Linked DNA regions of Homo sapiens. The protein of the gene in region 1 purifies or fractionates together with the protein of each later gene. This does not show direct contact. Each region holds a gene or a part of one and is shown in the gene's direction. Other genes may lie near its edges.

The links. The genes of interacting proteins can lie anywhere in the genome.
Region 2: the proteins of ZNF689 (region 1) and SRSF12 purify together in Homo sapiens (affinity purification with mass spectrometry; one large-scale study listed by BioGRID and IntAct). This does not show direct contact.

The regions. Positions count from the first base shown.
Region 1 is NC_000016.10:30,604,724-30,607,389, reverse strand, and holds part of ZNF689 (zinc finger protein 689), read left to right. Parts: intron 1-1,942; coding exon 1,943-2,666. UniProt on the Homo sapiens protein: May be involved in transcriptional regulation.
Region 2 is NC_000006.12:89,095,459-89,098,265, reverse strand, and holds the end of SRSF12 (serine/arginine-rich splicing factor 12), read left to right. Parts: 3' UTR 1-2,307; downstream 2,308-2,807. UniProt on the Homo sapiens protein: Splicing factor that seems to antagonize SR proteins in pre-mRNA splicing regulation.

The DNA.
Region 1 (2,666 bases):
CGAACTCCTGACCTCACAGTCCGCCCACCTTGGCCTCCCAAAGTGCTGGGATTATAGGAATGAGCCACTGCGCTTGGCTGGGACTTACGTTTCTAACACTGCATAATTTTAATTCTTTTTTTTTTTTTTTTTTTTTTTTTTGAGATGGAGTCTCACTCTGTCATGCAGGCTGGAGTGCAATGGCGTGATCTTGGCTCACTGCAACCTCCGCCTCCCAGGATCAAGTGATTCTCCCACCTCAGCCTCTGGGTAGCTGGGATTATAGGCACCTGCTATTGTGCCCAGCTAATTTTTATATTTTTGTAGAGACGGGGTTTCACCATGTTGGCCAGGCTGGTCTTGAACTCCTGACCTCAGGTGATCCGCCTGCCTCAGCCTCCTAAAGTGCTAGGATTACAGACATGAGCCACCACGCCCAGCCACATTTTTTAAAGAATCAGCTAAGTCAAATAAACCATCCACAATGGAATTCTGTGTAGCTGTAAAATAGAAAAAAGATTTGCTGACATAAAATGATCTTTAGAATATATTAAGTGAAAAAATGTAAAGTGTGTATAAGGTGTGTATATGTTGTCTTTTGTATAAGAAAGGTGAGCTGGGCATGGTGGCTCACGCCTGTAGTCACTTTGGGAGATAGAGGTGAGCAGATAACCTGAGGTCAGGAGTTCGAGACCAACCTGGCCAACATGGTGAAACCCTGACTCTACTAAAAATACAAAAAATTAGCTGGGCATAGTGGTGCATGCCTGTAATCCCAGCTACTTAGGAGGCTGAGGCAGGGAGAATCACTTGAACCCGGGAGGCGGAGATTTCAGTGAACTGAGATCACACCATTGCACTCCAGCCTGGGTGACAGAGCGTGACTCTGTCTCAAAAAAGAAAAAAAAAAAGAAAGGTGGGGAAGAGAACATACGCTGTAAAGCATGTGTATGCAATCTCTTATGAAAGAAAGATAGGGAAGGTGACATTTGTATTGCATCAAAAAAATGGGAAAAAACTAATATGGTTTCTACAAGGTAGATTGGAAAAAGGTGGCAGCAAGACTTCTCTGTATTCCTTTATTAATATTTTGACTTGTTTGTTTTTTGAGATAGGGTCTTGCTGTGTTGCCCAGGCTGGAGTACAGTGGTGCCATCATGGTTCACAGTAGCCTTGAACTCCTGGGCTCAAGTAATCCTCTACCTCAGCCTTCCAAGTAGCTAGGACTACAGGCAGGCACGCGTGCCACCAGGCCAGGCTAATATTTGTATTTTTTGTAGAGATGGGGTCTCACTATGCTGCCCAGGCTGATCTTGAACTCCTGGGTTCAAGCGATCTCTTGCCTTGGGCTCCCAAAGTGCTGGGATTACAGGCATGAGCAACCATGCCTGGCTGATATTTTGACTTTTGAATGATGTAAGCTTACCTCTTCAAAAATATTCCTTTTTTTTTTTTTTTTGAGATGGAATCTCGCTCTCTCGCCCAGGTTGGAGTGCAGTGGCACAATCTCGGCTCACTGCAACCTCTGCCTCCCGGGCGATTCTCCTGCCTCAGCCTTCTGGGTAGCTGGGATTACAGGTGCGTGCCACCACGCCCGGCTAATTTTTGTATTTTTAGTAGAAACAGGGTTTCACCATGTTGGTCAGGCTGCTCTCAAACTCCTGACCTTGTGATCTGCCCGCCTCGGCCTCCCAGTGCTTACGATTACAAGCGTGATCCACTGTGCCCGGCCTCAATTTTTAAAGTTAGTTTAATCTCCGAGAAATCTTCCTAGACTTCTCCAAGCTGGGTTAGAAGCTCCTGTAATGCACACCGTATTTGCATGACAGTATGTCACACTTAGCTGTCTGTGGCACTAGGAATTGAGACCAGGGGGTGAGTCTATTGGTCTTGTAACCTATAATGTAATTGACAAGAGCAGGAGCCCAGTATTTGTTAAATTAATGCTTCTGTATTTCTATAGAAAGCAGAACCAGAAAGAAGAATGGGGAGAAGGAAGTATTCCCGCCTAAGGAGGCACCCCGAAAGGGGAAGCGAGGCCGGAGGCCCAGCAAACCCCGACTGATTCCTAGGCAGACGTCCGGGGGCCCCATCTGCCCTGACTGCGGCTGTACCTTCCCTGATCATCAGGCCCTGGAGAGCCACAAGTGCGCCCAGAATCTAAAAAAGCCTTACCCTTGCCCAGACTGTGGGCGCCGCTTTTCCTATCCATCCCTGCTGGTCAGTCACCGGCGGGCACACTCCGGCGAGTGCCCCTATGTTTGTGACCAGTGTGGCAAACGTTTCTCCCAGCGCAAGAACCTCTCCCAGCACCAGGTCATCCATACAGGGGAGAAGCCCTATCACTGCCCTGACTGTGGTCGCTGCTTCCGGAGGAGCCGGTCCTTGGCCAATCACCGGACCACACACACAGGTGAAAAACCCCACCAGTGCCCTAGCTGTGGACGTCGCTTCGCCTACCCCTCCCTGCTAGCCATCCACCAGCGTACACACACGGGAGAGAAGCCCTACACTTGCCTCGAGTGCAACCGCCGCTTCCGCCAGCGCACGGCCCTCGTCATCCACCAGCGCATCCACACGGGCGAGAAGCCCTACCCGTGCCCGGACTGCGAGCGGCGCTTCTCCTCCTCCTCTCGCCTGGTCAGTCACCGGCGTGTGCACTCTGGGGAGCGTCCCTATGCCTGCGA
Region 2 (2,807 bases), on another chromosome or scaffold:
TTAGTACTATTAATAATACCTTTTACACAAATATTTTTGACTTTAAAGCACTTTCATGTAAAAAGTAACTATGACTGTATAATTGCATAGAGCAGACTTAAGCTGTTTGACACCTATGTCTCTTTTGTGTCTTCTGTTTAAACTTGGGCCAATTCCTGGTGGATATTAGTTCATATTACAAAATTCTGATGTTCCAAAAAGTAGAATATATATAGAGATCAAACATTCAAAAGATACATTCTCTCCTAAGCTCAAAGGTTATATTTTTATTGGGTAGAACAGTATAGGTAAGTTGACATGAAATTGCATCCTGCACCATGACCACATTAGTAATATCAGAACTTTTGAGAAATACTGGATTTTGAATGGTTTGAGACTAATTCTTTAAAAATTAGGCTGAGCAACACTCACAATCCAAAAATATTCATATTAAGACTTACACATTTGAAGAATGGTACATTTTGTATAAAATCATATTTGATACCATTATTTCCACATACCTACTTTTCATCTGTTGCTTAATTTTTTCTTTTTAGAGTTCTTGCTCAACTTTATATGGAACAAGTCTTATTATTTTTGAAAGAGTGTTTAGTACCTTGTATTAAGAAACTTGGCCAAGCGTGGTGGTTCACTCCTGTAATCCCAGCACTTTGGGAGGTCGAGGCGGGCAGATTGCTTGAGGCCAGGAGATTGAGACCAGCCTGGGCAACATGGTGAAATCCTGTCTCTAAAATTTAAAAAAAAGAAGAAGAAGAAACTCGAGACTACATCTTCAAAAAACAACTTTGCAGTATTTGAATTTTACATTATACTGCCCTTCATTTCTGACAGCCAAATAACTTTATTGATATTTATTGCTTTTGTAGTTGTTATAACTAATAATTTCTTTGAAAATGTGTTGTAGTTTATGTTTTTCAAAGGGTTTTGGTAGTGTTTGTGATAGAATGGTTTTGCATATGATTATTATAGGGGATATATTTATAGAGCTCTACTTGTATACTTTGTGACTTACATTATGAAAACTTCAAAGTTCTCAATCCATACAGTTAGTATTTGTATCCAGAGTGTTTAAGAAAAAAATCTGTCTTATATTTTTAGTATATAGGAGCCAGTGTTGCTTCTATTTGTTTTGAATACAAATTCCAGTTTTCTTTGCATATTAGATCCCATATGTAAGAAACAACCTTAAACAATAATTTGTATGCTGGTAATATTTGGACAAGTGCCATAAATTAATGTATATTGTACTTTCTGAATAGATTTTCTCTAATCATAGCAAAATTTATTTCAAAACTACAACTCTTTGAATTATTCCGCTATAATAAAATTTAGTTATAAAATTATGTGGCACTACTGAAAATCTAAAGGATAATCTGAAGAATGAGTAAGACAGATATTGATAGAAATTTTTAGTATTTTCAGAATGTTTGGGTTCATACACATAAGTGAAATCATTTTAAAAACTAGGGGCTGGGCACAGTGGCTCACACCAGTAATCCTAGCACTTTGGGAGGCCAAGGCAGGAGGATTGCTTGAGCCCAGGAGTTTGAGACCAGCCTGGGCAACATAGCAAGACCCCTTTATCTATAAAAATAATAATAACTAGGTACCATTGTGAAAAATAATAACTAGGGATTGATTATAGTATCTTTACTCTGTATTCACAAATCTCTGTATTCCTGAACATATTTAATCCTTTGATTTACCTCTGACTAGGTTTGTCATTGTAATCCCTGGGCTGCTTAGGAGGATACCATTTGGTTTGATGAAAAAGCTGGAATGATAATAGCTCAAACTCTTTTGAGCATTTAGTACATGCTTGGCACTGTTCTATATGTCTTAAGTTATTCACTCTTGTATTTAACCATCAACACTCTTATGAGGTAAATATCCCGCAATTACTTTTGCGCCAACCTAGTACCACTACAGACAAGGAAACAGATGCAGAGAGGCTAAGTTACAAGGGCACACAGCCATAAACTTTGGATCTGTGGAGTGACTGGGCTTCAGAGTCCTCTTCCTGACTGCTGTTCCTATGTCTTTTGCAAAGAGAAGTCTTTGACAGGTATATGCTTTATTAAAATCATGTTTAGAAAGAAATGAGAGAATAGAATTAGAAAAAGGAATGACTGTAGGCTTCGATGAAAATGACTTTTGTGACTAGGTGAAAATTGTTTGGCTGGGTATCCTGGAAAATTGTCTTCTGGGAATATCTATATTCCAGGGTTCACTTTTGTCATAGAATTGTTTCTTGGCCCATTTAAGAGAGATACTTTGTTTATTAATAAATCAAACGTTTTAATTTTAGACATCTGTGATCAGTTCTTTTAAAGAGACTATATTTATTTAAGTACTTCCCAAGTTTAGTGCAGGGGTACTACCTACCATTTATTCAGGATCATAGAGGATAAGTTAGGGTCAAAGAAAATAGAGACTGCCATGACAGCGGCTTGCTTGCTTTCTCCCCAGGAATAATGCACAAATAATTTATAGCAGCTGATATTTTTCGGTGTTAACAGATAATAGGGGAATTTGCTGAAATTTTTATTTGGAGCCTCGGATTTAATTTTAGGCCACTGGGCTAATTTATTTTTAAATGTAAATTAATTCCAGTACTTTATTTGTAAAGTTTACTTGAGATCTAACTGTTCTAAGACATGCTGTTGCATTACAAATAAGAATTGCTGCATTTATTTTGATCCCATTGCCAGAGGCAAAATTAGTCAAAATTTAAAGGTATGTAGAAATACTTTTGTAATCCTTCTAAACTACATTAAATTTCTGGCTGACTGGTGGCTCACACCTGC